Regions from separate parts of the Homo sapiens genome. Here region 1 is linked to region 2. Evidence: fine-mapped QTL for protein levels in blood plasma. A gene starts in region 2. The other region holds a variant in brackets. All regions are shown on one strand. Distances are from middle to middle.

What was found. A credible set is the group of variants that fine-mapping cannot tell apart. PIP is the chance, under the fine-mapping model, that this variant and not a neighbour inherited with it causes the effect. Protein levels are from antibody-based Olink assays in UK Biobank. Linkage for the fine-mapping came from a reference panel and not from the study's own genotypes, which makes the PIPs less certain.
Region 1: its variant is the best candidate, but not a certain one, in a credible set for the plasma level of the TXNDC5 protein (UK Biobank, PIP 0.55). The variant lies in the coding sequence of TXNDC5. If it changes the protein, the assay may bind it differently, which can mimic a change of level.

What each region holds. Positions count from the first base shown.
Region 1 is chr6:7,870,397-7,884,499 of GRCh38, reverse strand. It overlaps BMP6 (bone morphogenetic protein 6), which reads right to left. Exons shown (of 7, transcript NM_001718.6): 5 at 5,350-5,426; 6 at 4,399-4,509; 7 at 2,772-4,306. The coding sequence ends at 4,157. TXNDC5 (thioredoxin domain containing 5) reads left to right here. Exons shown (of 10, transcript NM_030810.5): 9 at 12-141; 10 at 1,234-2,983. The coding sequence ends at 1,356. BLOC1S5-TXNDC5 (BLOC1S5-TXNDC5 readthrough (NMD candidate)) reads left to right here. Exons shown (of 13, transcript NR_037616.1): 12 at 12-141; 13 at 1,234-3,250. Among named protein-coding and RNA genes, the nearest start is that of TXNDC5, 33 kb to the left of the region's middle. RefSeq lists an enhancer at 1,235-2,434. The variant G/A (reference allele first, on the strand shown) is at 1,265.
Region 2 is chr6:7,910,502-7,925,022 of GRCh38, reverse strand. It overlaps TXNDC5 (thioredoxin domain containing 5), which reads left to right and starts at 14,235. Exons shown (of 10, transcript NM_030810.5): 1 at 14,235-14,509. The coding sequence starts at 14,247. All of the region lies in intron 4 of BLOC1S5-TXNDC5 (BLOC1S5-TXNDC5 readthrough (NMD candidate)), which reads left to right. RefSeq lists enhancers at 4,264-5,463, 11,961-12,110 and a silencer at 13,951-14,380.

The DNA.
Region 1 (14,103 bases), 40 kb after region 2:
TCTCGTCTTAGGTGTGGTCATTGTAAGACTCTGGCTCCTACTTGGGAGGAACTCTCTAAAAAGGAATTCCCTGGTCTGGCGGGGGTCAAGATCGCCGAAGTAGACTGCACTGCTGAACGGAATATCTGCAGCAAGTATTCGGTGGGTACTTGGATGGATGCTTATGGGAGCTCTCAGTATGGGGGCAGATCCCAAGGGAACTGTGCCTCAACCACGATAACTCACTCTGCTCTCATCTTCTCAACAATGTGGTTTTTATGTCCCTTTGAGTTGTTTGTTTGGAGAAGCAAAAGAGATCCTCTCTCAAAGGGAAGGCATTCTTCTTCGCCCGCTTTGTAGTTAGTATCCATGTTTCAGTGCAGGTTTTCAGGCCTTGCTGTCTGAGTAACAAGGCCGTGAAGTAACAGACCCCACGCCATAGACTGTGGGGCTTCCCACACCGCGACTCTTGATGATTGACCAGTGGTCTGTAGCCTTTGCCATAAATACCCGAGTCGCTCATTTTTCACACATAAGCCAGCATTATAAAATGCAGTGGCTGAATCTAAGAATCATTTCAACATAACCTCCTTTCTGAAAGGGCCATGCCAGCAAGTCGGTCCTGTGCTTGGGTTAACTACTGCCTTCATTCCAAGCTGTTAGCACAGTCTGATGGCCTGGAAGATTTGTCATTTTTTTTCTTCTTTGTTATTCAGACACTTTTGGAGCCCTTTAGATGGAGAATAGACGTAACCCAGACATAGTTTCCTTATCATTAAAAGATACCAGTTGTTTTTTGTGCCCTAAAATTCTTAGAAACGAGTTGCCACTGAAACATGTATCCTCAAGAGGATCTTGCTCTCATGGTCTGGTCTGCAGACCACCAGGGCATCGCCAGGGAGGTCATTGGAAATGCAGACTCCCAGGCCTGCTCAATCCAAATCTGCACCTTCAGCAGATCCGCAGGTGATCGTGTGCACAGTAAAGACTGAAAGCGTCTGCTTTAGGGTAAAGTCGTTCCTTTGAGGCTGATCTTTAATGATGTCATTTTGAATTCAGAAGTGAACACACAGCCCCACGGCTGTGCTTTCTAAACAGTAGTCTGCTCCTGTTTTAATGGAATATACACCTTTAAAAATTAGCCACAGAATTTTTCCAGCCACAACGGTAGGAGTGTATCTGGTTTTATTTAGGAAGCAATTTGCATGTGATCTGGACCGCTGGTTTGCAAACTTTTTTCTTTTTTGTTTTAAGGTACGAGGCTACCCCACGTTATTGCTTTTCC[G/A]AGGAGGGAAGAAAGTCAGTGAGCACAGTGGAGGCAGAGACCTTGACTCGTTACACCGCTTTGTCCTGAGCCAAGCGAAAGACGAACTTTAGGAACACAGTTGGAGGTCACCTCTCCTGCCCAGCTCCCGCACCCTGCGTTTAGGAGTTCAGTCCCACAGAGGCCACTGGGTTCCCAGTGGTGGCTGTTCAGAAAGCAGAACATACTAAGCGTGAGGTATCTTCTTTGTGTGTGTGTTTTCCAAGCCAACACACTCTACAGATTCTTTATTAAGTTAAGTTTCTCTAAGTAAATGTGTAACTCATGGTCACTGTGTAAACATTTTCAGTGGCGATATATCCCCTTTGACCTTCTCTTGATGAAATTTACATGGTTTCCTTTGAGACTAAAATAGCGTTGAGGGAAATGAAATTGCTGGACTATTTGTGGCTCCTGAGTTGAGTGATTTTGGTGAAAGAAAGCACATCCAAAGCATAGTTTACCTGCCCACGAGTTCTGGAAAGGTGGCCTTGTGGCAGTATTGACGTTCCTCTGATCTTAAGGTCACAGTTGACTCAATACTGTGTTGGTCCGTAGCATGGAGCAGATTGAAATGCAAAAACCCACACCTCTGGAAGATACCTTCACGGCCGCTGCTGGAGCTTCTGTTGCTGTGAATACTTCTCTCAGTGTGAGAGGTTAGCCGTGATGAAAGCAGCGTTACTTCTGACCGTGCCTGAGTAAGAGAATGCTGATGCCATAACTTTATGTGTCGATACTTGTCAAATCAGTTACTGTTCAGGGGATCCTTCTGTTTCTCACGGGGTGAAACATGTCTTTAGTTCCTCATGTTAACACGAAGCCAGAGCCCACATGAACTGTTGGATGTCTTCCTTAGAAAGGGTAGGCATGGAAAATTCCACGAGGCTCATTCTCAGTATCTCATTAACTCATTGAAAGATTCCAGTTGTATTTGTCACCTGGGGTGACAAGACCAGACAGGCTTTCCCAGGCCTGGGTATCCAGGGAGGCTCTGCAGCCCTGCTGAAGGGCCCTAACTAGAGTTCTAGAGTTTCTGATTCTGTTTCTCAGTAGTCCTTTTAGAGGCTTGCTATACTTGGTCTGCTTCAAGGAGGTCGACCTTCTAATGTATGAAGAATGGGATGCATTTGATCTCAAGACCAAAGACAGATGTCAGTGGGCTGCTCTGGCCCTGGTGTGCACGGCTGTGGCAGCTGTTGATGCCAGTGTCCTCTAACTCATGCTGTCCTTGTGATTAAACACCTCTATCTCCCTTGGGAATAAGCACATACAGGCTTAAGCTCTAAGATAGATAGGTGTTTGTCCTTTTACCATCGAGCTACTTCCCATAATAACCACTTTGCATCCAACACTCTTCACCCACCTCCCATACGCAAGGGGATGTGGATACTTGGCCCAAAGTAACTGGTGGTAGGAATCTTAGAAACAAGACCACTTATACTGTCTGTCTGAGGCAGAAGATAACAGCAGCATCTCGACCAGCCTCTGCCTTAAAGGAAATCTTTATTAATCACGTATGGTTCACAGATAATTCTTTTTTTAAAAAAACCCAACCTCCTAGAGAAGCACAACTGTCAAGAGTCTTGTACACACAACTTCAGCTTTGCATCACGAGTCTTGTATTCCAAGAAAATCAAAGTGGTACAATTTGTTTGTTTACACTATGATACTTTCTAAATAAACTCTTTTTTTTTAAAAGTCTGGTCTTTCCTTCAATGTTACAGCAAAACAGATATAAAATAGACAATAAATTATAGTTTATATTTACAAAAAAAGCTGTAAGTGCAAACAGTTGTAGATTATAAATGTATTATTTAATCAGTTTAGTATGAAATTGCCTTCCCAGTACATGATTGTGAAAAAGACATTTAGAAAATATTCTAAAATTTAATCTGAGCCTCACTTTCTACAAGGGAAATCATGATTTCCGTTCATAAACAGCATGCTCATCCCCCTAACACCATTCTTATAAGCTGGGCACCCTCATTTTATTTTCTTCGTTGGTTCTAACCCTGTGGCGTGGTATGCTGTATAGTAAAAAGGCAGAGAACCACTTTACTGAAAAGGTACTAGAGCCGGCAGTCCAGAAGTTAATGTGCTGGTCAAAGAACCGTTCTGGTAAAGAAGAGGTGAGCATTGCCTTCACGTGTTACACGGTTACACACCCCTTGTAGCCTCACCTCAGTGTAATCAGTCTACTTTTGGTACTAGCAAAGAGTACAGCAAATGGAGGATTGAGGTGTAGAAATGGTATGTTTTGGCTGAAATAAGTGTATTTTCACACCAACAAAACTCCAGCACGAACATACAACAGCAATGACTGAGACAAGGGCGCCCCGTGGAGCCCTGGCTGTGGCCTGGGCTGTGCGTCCTGTGGACTTCTGGGAATGAACTGAACAGAGGCGTTCCCCCCACTTCCCCGATTTCTGTTCTCTGTAAAATCTACCTTTGATAGACAGTACTGAACCAGCTGATCCTTTAGCCAAGAATACATTTAACTCCTTTGAGATTATTTTCCCTATTTACTAACAAACACCCCAAATAGCTTGATCTACAGCTAAAACTAATTTTGGTGGGTTTTTGGGGGAGGAGGGTAGGAAGAGCTTCACGGTTATGTTTCTGCAGTTACCAGACCTTATGCTACAGACATCCAAACTCAGCTTGCTACAGACCAACAACTACTCACGTCATTTACCAAGTGAGCAAATTATTAATGAGGTCCTTTAAAATCTTCCTGGGTAATAAGGCACTGGCATGAGATAGTTTCAAAGTCTCATCGTCCCACCTCCAACTGTGCTTCCGTGTTTTTTTAAGGCAGATGTAATCTAGGAATCCAAGGCAGAATGTGTGTCCCCAGCATCTGGTTTCGAGTTAGTGGCATCCACAAGCTCTTACAACCATATTCCTGTATTTTTTCAGAATGACATTGGAGTTGTCATCAAAGTAAAGAACCGAGATGGCATTTAGCTTAGTTGGCGCACAGCACGGTTTGGGGACATACTCGGGGTTCATAAGGTGAACCTGTTCCAAAACAGAAGGGGAGAAGGTACCTTAGAAATGACACCTGGTCTTGGCTTACTCCCACTTACAAAACAAAGTCTCCGAGAGCTCACCAAGGTCTGCACAATCGCGTGGTTGGTTGCATTCATGTGTGCGTTGAGTGGGAAGGAGCATTCTCCATCACAGTAATTGGCAGCATAGCCCTTGGGTGCAATGATCCAGTCCTTAATTTCATGCAAAGGAAGCAACAAAAGATGAGCATGCACTTCTCACACTATTTGTGCTTTTCAGGAATGCTGTGAAAAGGTATTTTTCACATTGCACAGGCAAGGATACAGACGCAGGAAGGCTTAGGAATTTGTCCAAGTTCACATTCAAGTGGCAATGCTGGGAAGTGAACCTGGTCCATCTGACCCCAGAACCCTCGCTCCTTGCAGAGGCCCACAGGGCCTCAGCTGCTACCTGGAAGCACGTAGGTTGCCAGCAATATGTGCTTGGACCCAAGCAAGCCTCTCCAGGAGCCCACGGTGCTCCTGCGGAAGTAGTGCCACCTGCATATGGAAGCTACCTTTTATCGCTCACCACCTGTGATTAAAGTTGCTGCCTTTCTTACAAACTAGTGATGGTTCTCAGGTACGAGGCAAACGTGTGCTCTTCTGCATCGTTTGGTGAGCTGGTTTGCAGCCATTGGAGATGTTAACCATTAGGTAATTTTTTTCCAACCCTGTCTCAATTAAAATTTGTTTAAATGCCCAAATAAATGTATGTCCTATGGGCTTTGAAAGGATGAGGTGAGAATATTGGGAAATGTGGCTATTGATTTTTGAGGGATCACAGAGCTCAGGCACCCTAGGAAGGTGTTGGAGCGCCTGGTGCCCCACAGACTAAGCTTCCTCTGCCTTACTCCAGGAGCCTGAGCATTTGGGAGGGCTCCTCAGGACTTCCACAGAAGGAAGCAGCTCAGCCTTCAATCAAGCTCTGGGTGTTTGGTAATGGCTGCCACCATTCAGATGAGAGTAAACTGCTGAGAAAGGACCTTTATCCCCCGTGTCCAGAGAACTCACCTGCCATCCCAGGTCTTGGAAACTCACATACAGCTCATGCTTCCTGCAGGCTGTTTTCAATTCACTGCTGTTGTAATCTGTTGGAGGAGATCAAAAGATGCACCCATCAAAAGATGCACCCATCAACTCATTAATTCCTTCATAGAGAGTTTACCACATGCCAGGCTCTGTGCTAGGCTCAGGATAGCCTCCTAGATACAAGTATGGTCACCCAACAGCTACATCAGGTTCCTGACTGTTGGCTTGAATGTCTTACGGAATCCGTTTTGTCTACCCTGGGGTCAGTACTGGGAGCAGGGTGACTTGAATGGACACCCTTAAGCAACAGAGGTGTGTTGTGAGCCCTGCTGCATGCAAGGCCTATGGAGGCGTGGGCCGACTTGCCCAGTACACCCCAGAGGCGCCAGACCGGGAAGGCATCACATTCACATGATCAGACAACGCTACTAGGCAGGATTTGCTGCAGTCCAAACAGGGAGCATTTTGAAACTGCACAGGGGCTTTCAAGACAGCTGCCGGGCCAGAAGAGTATCCTGAAGGAAGAGTAATGGTGGAGTGGGGCCAAACCAGGAGGCCCAGGAACGGGGGAGAGGGAGACACCACGCAGGGGCAATGCTCTCTCTGGCTGTACTCCCACCTCACTGCCAGGGTTGAGCTCTTGTGTGCTGATGCAATAACACTAAGCCAGGGGTTCCTCAGGAGACTCTGCTGAAGTGCATGTACCCACCCTGTGCAGCACAGGGGCCACTAGCCTGGCTTAACTGAATCACCAGCAAGAGCACTGGGGGTGCCCCAATTCACTGAGGCCCACTGGAGCGACTCTTACGTGACATGCCTTCTGCCTGGCACCACGGCCAATAGACGGTAAGTCAGACATGGCTTTCCTCCCTCCAAGAACTCAGTGAATGAAGGGGTGGTGTAAAACAGACACACAAATAACTCCAATACAAACCAGAACATGGATGCTACGGGCAAAGGCCATAGGCAAATATCACACAGGCAAGGGCCATAGGCAAATGTCCCTTCAGAGAAGGGACAGTTCAGAGTGGGAGTGAGAGGAAGAGAGAGGAGTTCTGCTGGAATGGATTTAAGGATGTGTCAAGCAGGGTCGGATGAGATAAAGCTGGAGAAATGAATGGCCTAGGCTGCCAACCACAATGCTTCGGACTTCCCACCAGAGGCACAAAGTGAGCCTTTGCAGGGTTCTGAGCTGCAGAGCAGCATTTCCCGCTGTGATTCGAAAGGATTAATCCATCTGGAGTTGTGTTGGAGAGTTCGAGAAACGACGGAGAGAGAAAAGGCAAGGAGAAGGCTTTAGAGAAAGGTCATCTAATGTGGGATGTCAGTGGGTGTAAGAGCCTAGGTCATTTGCAGGCTATCCCTTCCCTTTTCAACTACATAAGCCAGTAAGTCACCTAATTGTTGAAAGCCTGTTTGAACTTGATTTTCTAACTTCTAACTCCCAGTCTTCCTGGCTCTGAAGCAGGAGAGAGCGTGCAGATTTCATTAATTTTTTTTTTTTTCTTTTGAGACAGAGTCTTGCTCTGTTACCCAGACTGAAGTGCAATGGCACGAGCTCGGCTCACTGCAACCTCTGCCTCCTGGGTTCAAGCGATTCTCCTGCCTCAGTCTCCCGAGTAGCTGGGACTACAGGCGCGAGCCACCATGCCCAGCTAATTTTTTGTATTTTTAGTAGAGATGGGGTTTCAACACATTGGCCAGGCTGGTCTCGAACTACTGACCTTAAGTGATCTGCCCATCTCAGCCTCCCAGAGTGCTGAGATTACAGGTGTGAGCCACCATGCCCCACCAGATTTCATGATTTTTTAAGGAAAAGAGACAGTGACTCAGGCCAGTGGCCTATACTGGGAGAAGAGATGGGGCAACTTTTTTAGGTGGTTTATAATTCTAAATTTATTTATCCTCTCCACCTGCCTATGTTACCCAACAGAACCACCCTGCCTTTAACTTTAAGGACCCCAGAGAAGCCCTGGAGGGAAATTTTCACAATGCAGGACAAGGACTCTCTCAGTAAAAACAATCAACCAACTATCACCATAAGACAGAAACTTCCTACTGAAAAGAACCCCTGAACAAAAATGAATCAGCCACACAAAGTCTCTCAAGAGGATGGCTGGAATGCAAGGGAAGACCCAGAGGACCCCAGAGACTGTGGATAAGAGTCATCTGAACTAAGCTCTAAAGGAAGAATACCAAAACAAAACAAAACAATAACAAAACTAAAAACAAAAACTAGAGGAAAAAAAAGGAAGAATACCTAAAATAATGGAAGGAAGAAAAGAAGGACTAGAAACCTTAAAACAAAATTATGGGGAAAAAACATGAAAAAAGAACAGGTAGATGTAAAAAGAGTCAAATAGAACTTTATAAAAACCATAACCATTGAAAATAACAATGAAATCAGATTAGATATAACTAAAGATCAGATTAAACAGGTTAAACATTAGTTGTCTAATTAACAGATTAAACAGATTACTTAACAGATTAGTTATACATTAAACAGATAATCATCAAATTACACATAACTGAAGACAGAATTAAAGAATTCAACAGTATATTTGAAATCTCTTCAAATATAGCACAGAATCAAATGGCCAAAATACATGACTGTCTCTTTGTAAAGAGACATGGAAGAGAGAATGAAAAGTCCAACAAATTTCTAATAGGAATTTCGGAAGGCAGTAATAGGGAGTAGTAGTATTTGAAGACATAATGACTGGGAATTTTCTACAACTAAAGAAAGGCAAACATCTTTAAGTTGAAAAGGCCCAAAGAGTTCCAAGAGGATCAGATAAATTCTTATCTAGCCACATGTAGTGAAATTATATCAAACACATAAATTCTTAAAAGTAATCCAGAGATAAAAAGAAAATTACTAAGAAACACAAAATGGATAGCAAACTTAACAAAAATACACATTAAAAAATTAAATAATATGAAAATGATGCCATCAAACCTAGAATGCCATACCCAGCTGTAGTGGATATTTACTGCTTTTGCTACCCAGCTTTTGGCAACACTTCGCATGTGGGGGAATGCCTAGATAGGTGGGACTCAGAGCCCCATTTCCCACGACAGATAGCTCCCCTCTTTGTCCCCTAGCATCTGAAGTACGGACTCATGACTTCATCAAAGCCAATCAAATGTCTCCACCCTGCAGTGTATAACCTGAGGGAGTGACTCAAAGGTGACATCAAGAATGGGTAGTACGGCAGCCAGTGTCTAGGGTGATGACCACATTGGAGGGATCCAAAGCACATTGTTCCATGACTAGATCTGAGCCTTGATTTCCTGAATTAAGTCTCCAGCCTTTTTGTTGATTGGGTAAGTTCCCTGGTACGCTTTTCTCTCTCATTACAGTCTGCTTCTACTGCATGCAATCTAGAGCACTGTGATAGTTAATTTTGTGTCAACTTGATTGGACTATGGAATGCCCAAGTAGCTGATAAAACTTTTTTTTCTGCAATGGGGTTTTGCTCTGTCACGCAAGCTGGAGCACAGTGGCACAATCATGGCTCACTGCAGACTTGACCTCCTGGGCTCAAGCAATCCTCCCACTCAGCCTCCCAAGCAGCTGGGACTACAAGAACGGGCCACCACAAGCTAACTTTTAATGCAGAGATGGGGACTTGCTATGTTGCCGAGGCTGGTCTTGAACTCCTAGCCTCAAGCAAGCCTCCTGCCTTGGCCTCCCAAAGTGCTGAGATTATAGGTGTAAGCTACTGAGTCTGGCAACTGTTAAGACATTATTTTGGGGTGTATCTGTGAAGGTATTTCTGGAAGAAATAAGTATTTGAGTCAGTAGACTGAGTAAAATAGACCTGCCCTCACCAACACGGATAGGTATCATCTCCTCGGTTCAGGGCCCAGAGAGAACAAAAAGACAGAGGAAGGGCAAATTCTCTTTTATCGAGCTGGGTCATTGTCTTCTCTTGCCCTGGGACATCAGAGCTCCCAGTTCCCAGGGCTTTGCACTTCAGGACTTATACCAGCAGCCCTCCCCAGTACTCAGGGCTTTGACTTCCAACTAGGACTTACACCACTGGCTCACCTGGTTCTCAAGCCTTTGGACTCAAGACTGAATTACACCACCAGCTTTCCTGGTTCTCCAGCTTGCAGACAGCAGCTCATGTGACTTCTTGGCCTCCGTAATTGCCTGAGTCAATTCCCATAATAAATCTCCTCCTATATATATATATATCTCCATATATCCTATTGATTCTGTCTCTCTGGAAAATTCTGACTAGTAAAAACCCGGACTAGCTAAATTATTATTCAATAGTTAGGGCATAGAGAGTACAGGGTGGCAAGTGTGCTATCTCACATAGCGTTGACAAGCTTGTCTGGATTTTTTTGTTTTTGTGGGTTTTTAAGAAATTTTTGAGACAGGGTCTCACTCCATTGCCCAGGCTGGAGTGCAGTGGTGTGATCATGGCTCACTGCAGCCTCCAACTCCTGGGCTCAAGTGATGCTCCCACCTCAGCCTTCCGAGTAGCTGGGTGTACATCACACACCTGGCCAATTCTTTAAATACTTTGTATAGATGGTGTTTCTCTGTGTTGCCTAGGCTGGTCCTGAACTCCTGGGCTCAAGTGATCTTCCTGCTTTAGCCTCCCAAGGTGCTGGGATTACAGGCGTGAGCCACCTCGCCTGGCCTTGTCTTTCTGTTAAGGTATCTTCTAAGCAAAAGAGGAGCCTTGGGAGTGAGGCATGAGGCCATCTGGGGTGAGAGAATTTCCTAGAGTGGGAATGACAATGTGAAGGCCCTGAGGAAGCAGCCTGCTTCACCTATTCCAGGAACAACCATGTGGCGGCTGTGATGTGTTTATTAGCAACCCACATCCTCTATCAACCTCCTGAGCACACAGCCAGATGACATTTCCCACTGCAGTTAGCTGTGGCCATGTGCCTGGATTCTGCCCATGAATGTGGGGAAGAAGGGATGTGTGGTGCTGCCAGGCCTGGCCCTCCTAACCACCTGCCCCCTACCCCATCAGCCTTCCACTCACTCTTTCCTCTCCTGCCAGCTGGGTGCAGCAGGGGAGTCTCCTGAAGACCCCAAGGTCCTAACGCCCTGCGCTCCTAAAGGTGTCCTGGGTTAGATTAGATGATAAACTGCATGATCACACAACTTACAGTCTTAGCCTGGGATTTTCCCCATCCAACCTCATTCTGCTTGTGAAGTAAGCTTCCTCCAAAATACCGTCTCGTGCTAGGGACCAAAATCTCCATGAAGACCATCTTGGCATCATTTGGTCATGTAAAAAGCAAAGATTTCTACAAACAACTTTCTTTCCCAGGTCAAGCAGACATGGGCAGTGTGAAAATAATAAATATATCTCTGGTCTTTGTCCCCAGTTCCTGGCACCAAGCTTTGACAACCCTTGGATTTTCCTGAGTGTCTTTGTTATGCTCCTGAGGCCCTAGATTGTACACGGTGAACCCCACACACTCTCTAGGACCTCATTAGCTTCAGGATGGGGGCTAGTTACCAAAAAAGCCAAGCACAGGATTAGGGGGTTGGAACTTTGGCTTAGCCTGGCCTCTGGGGGGCTGGAGATGGAGTTCAATCATGTGACCAATGATTCAATTGTGCAGAGCAATTAAACCCCACATAAAAACTCCAGACACTGAGGCTCAGTGGAGCTTCCAGGTTGGTGAACATACTGATGTTTCAAGAGGACGGTGCACCCAAAAGGGTGTGGAAGCTCCAACCACCCATGCCTATCCCCTTGACCTTGCCTAAGAGTCTCTTCATTTGGCTGGTCCTGAGTCATACCTCTTATAATAAACCTATGATTGTAAGTATAGCACTTTCTTGAGTTCTGTGAATTGTTCCAGCAAATTATCAAACATGAAGGGCGGTAATGTGAACTCCCAAATTTGTAGGCAAGACAGACAGAAGCATGGCTGCCCTGTGGACCTCACTTGTGCCTGGTGTCTGAAATGACAGCAGTCTCCTTGGGGACCTTGCCCTTTCACTTGGGCCTGTGCTAACTCCAGGTGGCATCAGAATTGAACTGAGGCCAGATGTGGCGCCTCATGCCTGTAATCCCAGCACTATTGGAGGCTAAGGTGGGAAGACTGTTTGAACCCATGAGTTTGAGATCAGCCTGGGCAACACAGACCCTGTCTCTACAAGATATAAAATTAGCTGGACATAGTGGTGTGTGCCTGTGGTCTCGGCTATTTGGGAGGCTAAGGTGGGAGGACTGCTTGATCCCTGGAGATTGAAGCTGCAATGAGCCCTGATTATGCCACCATACTCCAGCCTGGGCGAGAAAGCAAGACCCTGTCTCAAAAAAAAAAAAAAAAGAAAAAAAAAGAATTGGATTGAATTGCAAGACACTTAATTGGTGTTGAAGAATTGCTGGCAGAACACAGGCAGAGACCACCACTTCATGTCTGGATTTCCAGTTTCTTTTTCTGCTGGATGGAACCAAGATGACATAGTCAAAGGGCTTTGCTTCTAACTTCACCAGCAGTTCTGGGTTTCTGTGAACCTGCTGTTGATTTGACTCTCTCAATGCTCAACAAAGAGAACCTTCTCTGGAAGAACAGCTATTTCTTTTAGCGCCAGACACTGGCATTTTTGTCATTAAGTAAGGATCAGGGCCAGAGAGAGGAAAAGGAGGAATTCAACTCTCCTGTTTTTCTTCCTACAGATACTCTCAGGCCATGCTTAAATTTCCTTATAATTCCATGTTAAGTGCTGGCAAAGAACGTATAAATATTTATGAAGGTTGATGCTCCTTGGAATACTTGTGTCTGCCACTCAGGGTCAGTACCCTGGGTTCTGCATGGAATTATACTGACACACTTTTTTTTTTTTTTTTAAACAGATTGACAGATTACAGATTACAGAAAAAACTTTCCCCTCACTCCCACTGCCCCTGGTATTGGTTTTGATGAATGGGCTGAAGAGGGCCAGTGGAAATGTATGTGGTGACAATTCAACAGGAACATGGTCACTCCAGTGGGACAAAGAGAGGTAACACAGCTTTGCCCCAGTGGATTCACCAGTCAAGGGCAGGGCAGAGAAAGGAAGTGAGACAGCTAGAGAGAGGCGACAAACCAAAAACCAGAGAAGCTGACCCAAGACAGAGGAGCCTCCCCCACCACCCCCGCCGCCAGGACAGAAGCTCTCAGTGTGTGACTTGTAGGTGGCCTGTGCCGAATACTGGGGATCATCAGGGAGTTTCTCTAAAGTGCGGGGTTCTCAGCTCAATCCCAGACCCATGAGTCAGAGCCACTGAGATCAGGCCCCTGGCTGTCCACATGCGCCTGTGACACCAGAATTGGAACTGCTGCCCTCTAGACAAGAGGCTCACACACAGGTAGCGCTACTGCCCTGCTGAGACACAAAGTCTGTCTTGGGACCCCAAGGCTCCCCAGCATCCCCAGACACAGCTGCAGTCAAGGCCCAATATTGGTCCTGAGAGACATTTTCAAGGGCTCTGGCTTTTTCAAAGTTGAATACACAGTGAAATCTGGTCCCCCTCAAGGGCAGGGGCACCAGCCGCCCAGAGGCAATTTTCCCCCTCAAGACAAGGCCCCAGGTGCTCATCCAGGGCAACTTGGACAAGCAGGGCCCAGCCATAGGTGGGTTTGGGCAAAAAACTGTTGAGTGATCAGGTGACACAGATGACAAAATCCAACAATCATAAAAGCCCCCCCAGGACGAATTCCTTCCATAAGCAGAAGGTAACTCCCTGGCCTGCTCTTACACAGGCAGAAACATTCCTCTCACCAAAGATTTCTGAGCTTTGAGAATGTATCAGATGTTAATTGCCTTTAGCAGCGCGGCTTTCAGTCCCATTTAATAAACTGCTTCCGCAGGGAAACCTTCAGGTACAATTAGTATTAAAAAGCCCAAATCCTTCCTCTCTTCTCCAAATGAACATTACAGATATTTGAACATGGGTTTTAAGTGGAGATTTTTCTTTTCTAGCACCAGAGTTGAGTTCTAATTTGTCCTAAAGCCACTGAAGCAAAAACCATGATAAAATATTCTGCTTTCCTTTATAACCCCTCAATACACACACACACACACAAAACTATTTGTAGGAAAAAAATGGCTTTGGACATGAGATGTAAATGGGTTTCCTCTCACAGTGTGGGACAGGCAAGTGGGGCCCATGATACAGGAAGCTTCTACAACTCCCTTCGGGGATGGAGATGAACTCTAAAGATCCAAGACAGGCCGGGCGCGGTGGCTCACGCCTGTAATCCCAGCACTTTGGGAGGCTGAGGCAGGTGGATTGTTTGAGGTCAGGAGTTTGAGACCAGCCTGACCAACATGGTGAAACCCTGTCTCTACTAAAAATACAAAAAATTAGAGGGGCATGATGGCACATGCCTGTAGTCCCAGCTACTCGGGAGGCCGAGGCAGGAGAATTGCTTGAACCCGGGAGGCAGAGGTTGCAGTGAGCTGAGATTGTGCCACTGCACTCCAGTCTGGCAACAGAGTGAGACCCGTTTTTTTTTGTTGTTGTTGTTGTTTTTTAAAAAAAAGATCCAAGACAGACATGCCTGTTTCCCCTAAGGAAGGTTCTTCAGCAAGACTCTCCATGATCTGTAGTGGAAAAGAAGGTGGCAGAGACAGGCACCATCCCCCTCAGAAGGAGAACAGAGTTGGGCAGAGAGGTCCCAGCTGTGGTGCCCAAAGCGTGTCTTTATGAAGCCTTTATGTTTCCAATACGTTGCCTTCATTTTTCCAATACTTTGCCAAAG
Region 2 (14,521 bases):
GTATTTATTTCTGCAAATGGGCATGCCTCCTGTGCTAGCCTATTAGTGTTGGCAATGCTATATTATGAGATATTACATCCTCCTGAGTAAACCTACTTAGTAATTGAGGTGGGTTTGAATTTTGTTGTTGCTATGGTGACCTTCAGTACATCACTGACTTTAATTTTTCTAGCATTACTTTGTGCTTAGGGTGGAGGCTGGGGTTCCAGGATATTTTTCTCAGAGCTCCTGCTTCACCCTCAATTTTCAGTCTTACCAGTTTGTCTGTGACAAAGACTGGGAGGCCTATCTCCATGCTCTTGCCTTCTCCCCAGAAGTAGACTGCTGTTGCTCGTTACTTGGTGCTTGCTTGGTGGTGGAGACAGGGAAGGGAGATTCTCTCTTGTCCAGATCCAGCTTCAGTCTTAGGCAAGTCTGTCTGCCTAGGTCTTAGGAATGGGACTTTCTCAGTGATCCTGCTCTTCTTCCCAGTGACTGCCAAACTGCCTCATATCTGTGCTGGGTCTTGAATAGGACAGTTCCTCGCCCCTCCCCCACATGTTGGAGACCCCTATTCATATTGTCATATATATGATCCTTGACCCAGAACTCTTTCCTTCCCCTTCTCCAGGGGTAGAGGATGTTACTTCTTTTCTTTTTACCTTTTTCCAAGCTCCCCCAACTTTGCCAGTGCCCTGGAAACCTAAACTATATTTATAGGAGAAGAGAGTTCAGTCAGGATTTTGTGAATTTCCTACAACAACAACCACTCCCATTCTTCAGGTCCACACCACCAAAGGAGGTTCCCTTGGTCTCATTGCTCTGCTTCCAGACTTTCTCATGAGCATCCAGTGGAGGCCCAGTAGAAGGTCCTGAATGTGAGTGCAAACTCCCTTTGTGTGTGGAGTTCTCAGGGGTGCTATACTCTTGTGCCAGCCCACACTTGGCTTTTGCTCTTAATCGTAAAGTTTAGCCAAATTCTTCTTACCCACTTGTACAGTCCCAGCATCTCTTCCTCCTGGTCTCTGCTACAGAGAAATCAGTGAGGGTGCTCCATCTTTCCTTGGAGAAGCCTGACTTTTCTTGGATTTAAGGATATTTGGTTGCCCCATGCCCTCAGCTCTTTGATGAGTTCATGAAAAGTTATCGTGTTGTAGTATATCCGGTCTTTTTGTTTTGTTTTGTTTGTAGTTTATTTTTCTGTTATTAGGGTAGGGGAATAATTTTTCCTGCTTTCTACACTCTACATGGAACCAGACATGGTTTCAAATAGTTTATCTCTTCTTTACAAAAAAAAAAAAATCCCTAAAGTCTCTAACCGATGAAGAAATTTAAGCACAGAACATTTTAATCACCTGAAGTTATACAGCCAGAAGGAGTAGTGCTGACATTCAAGCCTCTCAGTAGTCTGATGGCAGAGGCTGCACCATGAACCACTAAAATACACCACTGTGCATGTTGCACATGGTCTACCTATGTCATTTTTAATTTACTCAGTGCTTTCCTGAGGGGTAGCAGTTTGCTTCCCATGGTTTGCTATTATAAACAATGCTGCAATGAAATTGTGAAGTTATCTCCCAAGGATAAGGTCCTGGACCTATTGCTGGGTCAAAAGGTATACTTATATAAATTTAAAATACCTACTGCCAAATAGCAACTAGGAAGAGTCCTTTAAAAATTACATTTAAACTCTTCAATGACAAAATTACAGAAGTGGTATGAAGACAAGCTTATTGCAAAAATTCAAATGTAAATGTTAGTTATATGCACATAACCTAGAAATGCTTAACAATTAAGAAAAAACTAGGTATGTCACGAATATATAAAATATATGTAGATTCTATTTTATCATTTACTACCATAAAATATACACAAAGCTATTATAAAAAGTTAAAATATATCAAAACTCATGCATGTAAACACTTACAGACCATACATGGCACCATTCTCAGTCAAGAGACATATAAACAAACAGAAAGATGCAGTATTAAATCATAACTGCATTAAATTAACTGTAGCATGTACTGTACTACTATAATAATTTTGCAGCCACCTCCTGTAGCTATTGCAGTGAGCTCAAGTGTTGTGAGTATCAGCTTCAAATGCTGTGTGATGCTCATCATCTCCCTTCAAGCAGTTCCTCTCTTCAGGAAATTGCATATCACAGCAAAAAGTGATCTTATGGTTCTCATGTATTTTTCATTGTGTTTGTTGCAATACCAAAACCTGGAATAATACCAGGGGACCCATACAAAGCACCACTAGGGATGCTGGAAGGGTTCCCAGGAAGCAGAGAAAAGTCATGACATTACAAGAAAAAAGTTGAATTGTTTGATATGCACTGAGGTCTGCAGCTGTGGTTGCTGCCATTTCAGACAGATGAGGCATCTTGTAAACAGATGACATAAACTTACGGTATTGATAAATACAGCACAGTGGTGCAAATGTGTTTTCCTTCTGTATGATTTTCTTAATATTTTCTTTTCTCTGGCTTACTTTATTGGAAGAATACAGTATATAACACATGTAACCTACAAAATGTGTGTTATTTGACTGTTTATGTTAACTGTAAGGCTTCTGATCAATATTAGGCTATTAGTAGTTACATTTTGGGGAGTCAAAAGTTATACATGGACTTTCGAGTGTGTGGGGGTCAATGCCCCTAACTCCCACATCGTTCAAGGGTCAATGTGTATATATATATATGTGTGTGTGTGTGTGTGTGTGTGTGTGTGTATGTATATGTATATATACATATATATAGATAGATACATATATATATATATATATATATATATATATATATATATATATATATATATGTCTCTGTGTGTCTTTACTCCTGGCCCACTCCAATCCTACCTCTCCTCCTGTACCAACCACTATTGCTGTCTGCCATGTATAATGGATAGGATTTTGAAAGCAGAGAGGAGAGCATTTCAAGCAGAAAGCACAGCATGAGCAAAGGAAGAGAGTTGGAAATGATACAACATGTGGCAGGGACAATAGGAAAGCAAGCCTGTCTGGAGCAGAGTTATGCAATGTCAGAGACAAGTTTGCAAAAGTAGAGGGAGCTACAGAAGCCGGGCAGAGGACTTGTGATATGATATAATTGGAAATACAGAGCTATTCTTTATTTTGGGACAGAGCAGTGAGATGATAAAGCTGTTGTCTCAAGATGATCCTGGCCAAAACAATTGCACATTGTTTGGATGGGAGCACATGGAATCAGGAGTCATGGCCAAGACTCTGTGGAGATAATCCGTGAAGGAGGAGGTGAAGGCCTGAGCCACATGGCCATATTAGACATAGAGAGGAAGGCGTGGAATAGGACTTCTCAATAAATGAACTGACACGTGACCCACTGGAAGTTATCAACATGTCAAAGAGATAACGAACTTGTGTACTGTGTGTATACAAGGCTGAGTATTACAACTTCTTAAGATAAATGTTTTATAATTTCCCCTGCTTAAATTCCATAGTCAAGTGTTATCATTTCTCCCCTACATACACTCTCGCTCTGTTGCCGCCCTCTGCCTTTGTTTCCTCACTTAGCTAAATCATAGGCCTGACTAAATCCAACTGTCTACTGTGTGACTGAACCACACAGCAGAACGTACCTGGAGAAAATCCGGGTATGTCAAATTGACATCAAGTGGAGCCTCAAGGCCACCAGGCATTAATACCAAACTGCCTTGTTTTCCCTCTCCCGTTCTCACTGTGACCTCTATTTCAGACCTTCACTGCCCTCCCCAAACCTCCAGCACTTCCCCTATCTTCAGTGTCAGCCCATGATACTGCTTTCTATTACAGTGGAAAACAGAAGCCACTGGAGGGGACAGGTGCCAGCTCCCACCATTAGCCACCTGGACCCACCTCTCTGGATCTGTGCCCACCCACTGTGCCTGCCCTCCTCTTATCACAGACAACCACTGGGGCTCCTTGGAAAGCCAACGTCTGCCCCTACTCATAGGCAACATCCTCCTGCACTCCCTCAGGCCACTACTCCAGAAATTCTCCCTCTGTCTCCTGTGGCAACCAATGTTTTCTTTATTTCTGGATCATCAAACAATCAACCATGTTGACTTGTCTTTCATGTTAAAAACAACAACAACAAAACCCTCTGGGCCCCTCTCTCTCCTTTAGTTACTATTGTATTCTTTTCCTTTGCTTTATGTGACAAGTTCTCCTGAAGAGTTGTTCACATTCATTGTTTGTAATTCCTTTCTTCTCCCTCTTGAAGCCACTCCAGTTGGGTTTTTACTACCACCTGTTCACCAAAACTACTATTACCAAAGTCTCCAAATCTAAAGGTGAGTGCTTAGGGATCATTACACCTGAACTGTCAGCAGGATGCCCTGTCAATGTACCTTCCAAACTGAGACACGTGGGAGGGGGAATGGCTGTGAGTAATGACTAGATCATGTCAGTAGGTGTAAACTGGGATTGTCTGGGGGCAAACCATGATATATCAGCAGATTCAAAACAGCTTTTCCTTCCGTCTTTTGAAACATTTCTACTCTGGGCCTGTGGACAGCAGTAATCAGGTTTTCTTCCTGCCTTCCTGACTACTCCATGCCAGTCTCTTTTGCCCATTCCTCCTAATCTCCTGGTCTTCAAAACAGTGAGATGCCCCAGGACTCAGCCCTTAAACCTCTTCCCTCCTCTGCACTCACTCCCACAGGGATCTCCTCCTGTCCCAGGGCTTTAAATACCATCAAATGCTAACGACTCTCAAATTTATATCTGGCCTGCATCTCTGCCCTGGACTTGAATAGCCATCTGCCCACTCTGTGTATCTGCAGACTTCCCCATTGTAGTATGTTCAACATTGAGCAACTCTTTCCCAAAACCTGTTTCCCATCTCAGATTATAACAACTCAGTGCTCCTAGCCACTCTGGCTGAACGCCTCAGTGTCATCCTTAGCTCCTCTCTTTCTCTCACCACCCTCAGCCCACATCTGCTGAGTCAGCAAATCCTGTTGGCACATACATCAAAAGAGACCCGGAACCTGCTTCTCATCACCCTCCCACCTCCGCCTTAGCGTGAGTCACCAGTATCTTGTGCTGGGATGGTTGTAATTGCTCCCGGAGTGGTCGCCTCCCTTCTATCCTTGCCCCCTTCGCATTCCTCGCTACAGCTCTCAGAGCCATGCTGTAGAAATAATTGGAAGCCAGATCCTGTCGTGTTTCTTCTGAAAACCCTCCGATGACTTCCCTTCTCATTCGTAAAAGCCAGTGTTCTCATTCTGTACTGCCTTCTTATTCATTCGCTCTAAGTCCTTTGCAGTTGCTGATCCCTCGGCTGGAACCAGATATTCACATGTGTTACTCCCTCACGTCTTTACTTGAAAGCCATGTCCCCAATAAGCCTATCCAAACCCTGACATCCCATCTGAACCTTGACACTTCATACCCCCTTCCTTGCCTTGTTTTCTTCTGGGCTTCTACCACTGGCTAACATAGTGTTTATCTTCTATATCTTACGTATTGGCTGTTTCCCCACCTACAATGGAAGTTCATTAGGACTAGGGTTTTTGTCTATTTCAGTTGTTGCTGATCCTCAGCACCTAAAAACGTGCCTGACACAGACTAGATCCAATAAATATTTGTTGAGTGAATTCTCTTGCAATTAAATGCACACAATGGAAGAGGAGATGTTGCAGCTATAATAAGCAAAGGAAACCAGACATTGATCCTTCCATGTGAAATACGACCCAAGCTTCTATATATAATACTTCACAGAGTGTTCTGCAGAGGATTAACAACACAAGAGACACCACAAATAAAAAGGAGTCCACAATCAAATAAGTTGGGAAATACTGCATAGGATACTTTTAGGAATTCAGATGGTGCAATCGCAAATAAAAATCTCTGATAAATCATTTAGGAAATAGGTTTCTATCTTTTTCTTTCTTCTTCCATTAGCACTTCATCCAGCCAATTCTTAAGTAGTCTTCAAGGCACAGTGTGTTGGCCAGGTGTGGTGGCTCATGCCTGTAATCTCAGCACTTTGGGAGGCTGAGGTGTGCAGATCACCTGAGGCCAAGAGTTTGAGGCCAGCCTGGCCAACATGGTGAAATCCTGTCTCTACTAAAAATACAAAAATTAGCTTGGTGTGGTGGTGGGCGCCTGTAATCCCAGCTATTTCAATGGCTGAGGCATGAGAATCGCTTGCATCCAGGAGACAGAAGTTGCAGTGAGTCAAGGTTGCACCACTGCACTCCAGCCTGAGAAATAGAGTGAAATTCTGTCTCCAAAAAAAAAAAAAAAAAAGGACTCAATGTATCAACAGTTGACATTCTTTCAGGCTGCCCAGCTTCACTGGACACCTTTCCTGCATTTGTGGAGCCTCTGACCTAACCGCCACAAGTTAGGATAGAGCATAGACCATTGAGCCCTACTGCAGTGAGGCTTCCATTGGAAGCTAGTTTTGCGAAGAAGCAGGGGTCATGCAAAGTCCATCCTGCAGGGCAGCGGTTGCAGAGGTTCCCATGGTCACATATAGTGTCCTGTACCAGAGGTGGGATAGGAGGAATCTGCATGTCGAGGTGGTAGCAGTGGTGGCAGTATTGTGATCTAATTTGAGCAGTATTGTGATCTAATTTGAGCAGTATTGTGGTCTAATTTGGGCATTGTTCCTGGCTTCTCTATCTCCTAACCCTAACCCTAACCAAGTGTTCCTCAAACATGTCTCAGTCAGAGCTCTTCTCTTAAGAAAACACCTATTAACTTCCAGCAAACATCAGCGTTCCTTTGGTGGTCTGCTCCACATCTGTGCTCTCAGAGCCCTGCTACAGTCCGCCACAGGCGCACCAGGGACTGAGATCCTGGCTGTGTCTCCTCTAATCCCAGGAATTCTCAACCCTAGGAAGTAGGACAAAGCCATCAGTATTGCTTTCAAGACCTAGATGATTGCAATGTGCAGCCAGAATTGAGAACCCCCAGGTAGGATAAACATTTTCCTGGATTCTGAACTTGGAATAGTGTTCTGAAATTCAGGCAGCTATGAAGAGCTGGCCCCTAAGTGCTGTGAGAGGCATGTCCCCATGCCCGTGTGGAATGCCACAGATCCAAGGCCAAGGCCATCACTGCAGGCCAGCGCAGCTGAGAGAGGAGTGGAACAACTCAGTGAGCAACCTGCATCAGGGAGAAGTCTTCTCTCCTGTTATGAAGTCCAGGTGCTGGTGAGCATCAGCTTCTGGATCAGCCTATCGGCCCCGCACCTGGGGACTCTGGGAAAAATAAGAACTCCTGTAATAGCATCTAGCAGACAAAGAGCTGGGAGAATGACAGGGGCATGAACGAGAAGAGCCAGCACTTGCACAGACTGAATGAGCTCCTGGGAGCTGGAGTGAGTGTTCTGTGCACTTTGAGAAACAGCACAGATCATTCAGCTTAGTGGTCATGATCCAGTCAACAAAGAAACTCTCTTTATTCTCCTCCCCCCTACCCCCGAGACCTCACAGATCCCACATGGATTTTGAAAGCTTTTATCTGCCAAATACCCGAATCTGTTATGTTATAATGTAATGTGGGTTTTTGGTGCTTATTAATTGTTTAGTAGGCTGTGTTGCCCAAGGAGCTTGTGAGAGTAGTGAGTAAATATGACCTTTCCATTAACCATTTCAATACACTGAAAACAGCTCTACTCCCTGTGTGACTCCAGCCTGGGAATTCACTTTGGTCTTTTTCTTTAGATTTTCTCTGATGAGAGCAATCCTCTAGCTTTTTCTCCACCTCTCAACAATCACATTTGAATGGTCACATGAGCTCATCAAGAAAAACACAGTTTTTCTTCTTCTTTAGAGGCACCTACCAAGGTGTTCTGACCAAATTAGAACAACAGGATGTAAATGCTTTCAGTACCTCCTAAAAGCAGTACTGTTCGCCCAATAATAACTCAGGATGCACCTGTTAAAGTGGTTCAAATGGTGGCATTTCAGTTTCTGAATGTCCTGGGGTTGTCTTGACAATGTTACAACACATTTGGGTCTTGTGTTATCCTCTGGAGGTGGAAAACAAAAGCTGTATTTTTCCCATTCAGTAGCCATTCCTCCCATGTCAGTTCTTATGTGCTCCCTGGGATGAGGACAGCTTCCAACGAGAGGCTTTGCCATGCACCTACAGGGCTGCTGTCGGAAGGGAGTGCAGCTCCTTGAAGGCTGTGGATTTGCAATAAGAAGGCAGCGTAGACCGGGCGTGGTGGCTCACGCCTGTAATCCCAGCACTTTGGGAGGCCGAGGTGAGTGGATCACGAGGTTAGGAGATTGAGACCAGCCTGGCCAACATAGTGAAACCCCGTCTCTACTAAAAATACAAAAATTAGCCGGGTGTGGTGGCAGGTGCCTGTAGTCCCAACTACTCAGGAGGCTAAGGCAGGAGAATTGCTTGAACCCAGGAGGCAGAGGTTGCAGTGAGCCAAGAGCATGCCATTGCACTCCAGCCTGGGTGACAGAGTAAGAATCTGTCTCAAAAAAAGAAGGCAGTGTAGCAATACTATTTTGCTAGAAGTAGTACTAACTTCTAACAATACAGACCAACATACCTATTGCCTTTTCTGCTTGGGAAAGGCCATGATTTTGAGGGGGGTCTCTCTCAAGCAAGCCATCCTCTGAGGGTAGACAAATGTGACTTTTCATCCATTCCTTCATGCATTCATTCAACAAACAGGTATCGTATTAGTCTGTTTTTGCGCTGCTGATAAAGACATACCTGAGATTGGGCAATTTCCAAAAGAAAGAGGTTTACTGGACTTATAATTCCAAGTGGCCGGGGAGGCATCCCAATCATGGCAGGTGAAAGGCACGTCTCACATGGCAGCAGACAAGAGAAGAGAGCTTATGAAGGAAGTCTCCCCTTTTTAAAACCATCAGATCTCATGAGACTCATTCACTATCATGAGAACAGTGCAGGAAAGACCTTGTCCCCATGATTCAATCACCTCCCACCGGGTTCCTCCCACAACACATGGGAATTGTGGGAGTTACAATTCAAGATGAAATTTGGGTGGGGACACAGCCAAACCATATCAGGTATTAAATGCCTGCTGTGTACCAGACATCACGTAAACACCTCTCAGGCCATGGGGCTTACAGTTTAGAGGGAAAGTCCGAGGCTAAACAAAATTCACACAACCAAATAATTACCCTTCTGTGAAGGGATATGGGGAGAAAGGACAAGATATTAGTGCAGGAAGCCTAACCCCAGCTGGAGGTCAGGGAATTTTTTACTGAGAACATTGTATTATTTCATCGCTGTACACAAATTCAGTTGTATCTTCACTTTTAGGCTTTCTGAGCTGGAAGCCACGCTGCTTGGCGATGGGAATCTAAGCAGGACCATGTGTGGCTGCTACCATATGAAGCAACATGTCAGTCCCTTGGGAGGGCTGGGAGTTCAGAGGAAGTGACGCTGAGCAGCCTGTGTGGAGGGGTGGCCGGGTCATGCAGGAAAGGCCGCATGTGAGAGAAGGTGCCAGGCACAGTGAGTCAGTTTGTTTTGGTGGAGCCTGGGAAAGAGATGTGGTTAGAAAGAGGGGTTCCTTCATCCAACACTTGTTGAGCCTCAACTGTATCCAGGCATTTGGGTGCTAGGGAGAGAGAAGTGAATGTGGCAAATAGCCCCTGGCCTTCGGGGAGCTTATTGATGGAGAAGACGGCCACCTTAACCAGCTAAGTCTGCAACAAAATGGCATCAAATGACAAAAAGTGTTATGCAGAAATTAAACAGCATGGCACTGGTGAGAGCTCAGTGGGCAGAGGGAGGCTGCTGCAGAGAGGGGCTTTGACTTGTCAATGTGGAAAGGCAATCGCCAGGCACTGAGGAGGTGGCGTGGGGGCAAGAGACCTGAGGGTGCAGGGAGTCCAGTCACAGAAGACAGGAAGGGAACAAGCACAGGGCACCACACACAAGGGCCTGAGAAGGGGAATGCTGGGAGGGTATCTAGAATCATCCCTAATGGCTAGAATCTAGGCGAGCAGAGGGCAGAGTGGTATGGGTTGAGATTGCATCTTTCCTGAAGGCCCTTGCAAGCCAAGGCAAAGAGCTGGAATTTGACTGTATGTGAAGGGAAGCCCCTGAAGGAAGTTAAGCAAAGGAGTGACACGATTCAATTCTAGCTGCTGGATGAAGGATGGATGGGAAGGACTTAAGAGTGGAAACAACATTCAGGAGGCTACTGTAGCAGACAGGAAGAGAAGGATATGGCAGCAGTGGAGAGATATCAGTCAGTGGGAGCTGTGGCTCAGAGATGGCAATGATTGGACTTGCTGATGGGGAGATCGAGTAGGAGGCGGGGATCAAGGCACTGCAATAAAGAAAAAGGGTAACAAAGTTTACAACTCAGAGGTCGGGGGTGGTGGCTCACACCTGTAATCCCAGCACTCTGGGAGCCTGAGGCAGGCAGATCACTTGAGGCCAGGAGTCTGAGACAAAGTTTGCAACTCAGGTTTCTGGTTTGTGCAACAGCGAGGAAGAACTATTTACTGAGGAGGGGAAATCGGAGGACAAGCAGATTGCTGCAGGGAAGCACAAGGTCAGCTTCAGCACACCTGCAGGACAAACAAGAGGAGGCATCCTGTAGATAGTGAGAGCTCAGAGAGAGGCCTCGGCTGCAAATGTACACTTTGGCAGCAGCATATAGATGGTGTTAAAGCCATGGCTATGGATGAGATCACCTAGGGAGTGATGCAGAGAAACAAAAGTGGGTTGGAGGCTGAGCGCTGAAAACTGACATCAAAGGTTGGGTTGAAGAGACTGAGGAGTGACGTGGGGATGGTAGGAGGTAGATCAGAGAAGCAGAAAGGACGGTGGATGCAGATGGGGCCAATGGCAGTTGTACCAACGCTGCTGAGAAGCCCAGGAAGATGAGGAACATAAAGTGTTCATTTGACTTGTCAATGTGGACATCTTCAGTGACTTTGAGAAGACTTGGTGTGTGGCAGGTTTGAGAGTCAGAGTGGCATGAGCTGAAGGATGAATGGAAAGTGAAATACAGATAATTTTTTTTTTTTTTTTGCTTATACACTGATGAAAATGGTCCAGTAGGAAGGAGTGATGAGTAACTTGTGCAGGAGAGAAAGAGAGGAGCTGAAGAACAAAGCCTTTGAGCAGGGAGCAGGGAGGGCATATGAGATTCCTAGGGCTGCTGTAACACCACACTCTTGGTGGCATAAAACCACGTACGTTTATTCTCTTACAGTTTTGGAGGTCAGAAGTCCAAAACCAGTTGCACTGGACTATAAATTGTCCACAGGACTGCAGGTCCCTCCAGAGGCTCTGAGGGGGAGTCTATTTCCTTGCTTTTTCCAGCATCTAGAGCTGCTTTTCCTGGCTCTTGGCCCCTTCATCTTCCAAACCAGCAGTTTAACATCTTCAAATCTCTTTCTGCTTTTGTTACGTCGCCTCCGGCTGTGTAGTCAAATTTCCTACTGCCCCTCTGTTATGAGGACACTTGTGATCACATTTAGGACCCACCGAGATAATCCAGGGTAATCTCTCCAGCTCACGACCCTTAATTTAATCACACCTGCAAAGCCTTCTGCCATATAAAGAAACAATCAGATGTTTCAGGAATTAGGACCTGGTTATCCGTGAGGGGCATTATTCTGGAGGACTGGGCTTTGCTAGGCAGGGATATACTGACTTGCTCCTTTGTGGGCAGAGGGAAAGGCGCCTGTGCAGGGGTGTGTAGATTTGGCGGGGGAGGGATAAGGGAGCTCATGCTTTTGGCTTCATTTTTCTCAGAAACATGAGATAAAGCTGGCAGCTGAGAGGATGGCGACTGACAGGGTGGGGTGGGGAGAGGAGAGGAGGAGCAGTGTCAGTGGAAGTATGGAAGCATCTCAGAGAGTGGGGCAGCACACTGCCTAGGCAGAGGTAGTCAGTTTTAGGGCAGGGGTGAGGAGGAATTTAAGGCTTATTTTTACCAGTGTGAAGGAGACATGCGGCTTGACTGTGCGATTTTTCTCCAGCAGAGTCTGGCTACCTGGTTGAAGGCACAGGGAACCCAGAGAGACAAAGCTCACCAGCATCTGTGGGGAGAATGTGGCAGGGCAGGAAGTGAAGGGTGAGACTCCATGGGCTGTAACTTGGCCAAGAGGCAAGAGAAGACATAGCAGTCTGTTGGGCTGCGAGGGGATTGTAGAAGATGGTGGGGTGGGTAGCTCAGAGGTCATGATGAGAAAGAAGCATTGCAGAAATGGGTTTCTTGAGCAAACAGTCGAGGAGGTGCTGGGCAGAGTGGATGCCTTCAGATTTTGGAGATGGTGCAGATGCTGGTGATGACAAGTGCTAGGGTCTCCCTTTTGGGTGTGAGTTACTGAGGGAAAGGTAGATGGAGCATCCACCTGGATGCTGAAGATGCCAGGAATGAAAGACAGGAAAGGGGTGGCCAGGAACACTGTGAGCCAGGAACCAAAGTCTTCACTGAACCAGGAAGAGTGATGTGGAAGAATGACAGGAACTGGCAGGGAAGAGGGTGCCATGCCCAGTGGCATCAATTTAAGGAGTACTGAAGGTTTTGTAGGATTTGGAAGGAGCAATGGGGAACCAGGAAGGCATCAGCTTTACTTCCTGGCTCTGAGGGACTCCAGGTGTGAAAGAATGAGCAGCCAACACTTGAGAGAGCTCCTAGAACTGTGTTTCAGTTAAAAACGAAAGACACTGATGCTGTAAGAGTGTATGGCGATGCTTGTGGGAATTTCCCAACAGCACCGTGGAAGGGTTTGGGAGGTTTGAGGTGTTGGAGAACACAGGGATTAGAGTTTGGCAATAACAGTTATTGGAGAGAATCCCTGGATTTCTAGTGTTGAGTGAGTTTCACAGGGACACAAAGCATGATGCAACCACATCACGGAAGGCCTTGAATGGCTGCCCCAGGCATGACTATTTCACCCCATCGGCCAAGGCCATGGGGACAGTGGTGGCGTTTTGGTCCAAGTTTAAGCAGCAAACTGTCTTGGTCAAAGGCAGGCTTTAGGAAAATTAATTTTCCAGCCATGTGAATGAAAGAGACTCTTAGAAAGCTACTGCAATAGGCCAGGCTTAGTCTCCGTTCAGGGTATGAACACTGAGAATGCTGGAAGGAAATCATGGTTACAGGAAATGCGGTTGAATTTTGAGACACACGGGAAAAGAGCGAGCAATACAAGATGCCTCCCATGTTTCAAGCTTAAGTGGCTGGAAGAACAGACTTTGGAGGGAGATTGATGGTTTTGGTGTTTGGCAACCCATGGTTAAAGGTTCATAAGTGGCTGGGCCTAAGGCGGGAGCAGAATAATGACAGGTGAGACAGTGGGCGCGTCCCCTGTTGCCAAGCCAGGAGTTAACTACCTGGGGCTTCCTGGATTGAGGATAATCAAAGAGCAGGCAGGATCCCGGAGAGCAACCCGGTGATTCTAATTTAGCTTCAGATCCCCGGGGTAGGGCTGGAGCTTTCGATTACCATCTGCTGTAAGGTGTGTGTGCAGGTGCGAGTTATGAGTCGCTGGGCAGGGATGCCTTCGGGCCATTCCACAGGCTGAGTTCAGCCATAGCAGGCGTGCTGTCATTCATTTTAGTAACCGGCATAAATGAGGGCACAGTAGGACCCCAGTCAGTCCTGCTAGGTGCCTTCTTGTCTAGAAGAGGCCGCTTTGACTTTCTTTCCTCTTCATCCCTGAGTTGAGGCCGGGCAGGGGTAACCAGCAAGGGGTTCACTTGGGAAGCGGGTTTCATCACCCCTCTGAGCCCAGGTCGAGAATCACAGTTGAGCTCTGGCCAAGAATCTAACTAATTCAGGTGCAAACCCCACCGTCTTTTGCCCGATTTCCTATATTCTGCTGACAGCAGCTCTCTCCTTCCTTTGGCCTGAAATCGCGGGGTGCTTGTGTGAGCTGAGATTAGCCGAGGCTGACCTGCCCCTCCGTGGCTTCCCGCTGGCCTCATCGTTACTTCGTGTGTTCACCGCCGCTCTGAGCAGAGCGGGCCCCTGGGGAAAGGGGTGCGGGCCTGGGTTGCGGAGGCGCAGGAGCCTCGCGGGATTGGGGCGAGCCGTCCCATGGCGGGAAGGCAGGAGGCCGGACTCGGAAGGCTCTCCCAGACTCGGTCCCTCGCTCCAGCCCTTCCCTGCCGGTGCGCGGAGCCGGGGCTCGGGCGGGTAGCGGTCGCGCGCCGGCGCGGGCGGGCGGGGAGAGGAAGGGGCGCGGCCTCTCCGGGGCGGGGCGCGGGGCGGGCGCTGCGAGGGGACCGGAGGCCGCGGCGAGAGCGCGCCCAGCCCCGCCGCGATGCCCGCGCGCCCAGGACGCCTCCTCCCGCTGCTGGCCCGGCCGGCGGCCCTGACTGCGCTGCTGCTGCTGCTGCTGGGCCATGGCGGCGGCGGGCGCTGGGGCGCCCGGGCCCAGGAGGCGGCGGCGGCGGCGGCGGACGGGCCCCCCGCGGCAGACGGCGAGGACGGACAGGACCCGCACAGCAAGCACCTGTACACGGCCGACATGTTCACGCACGGGATCCAGAGCGCCGCGCACTTCGTCATGTTCTTCGCGCCCTGGTAACGCCGCGC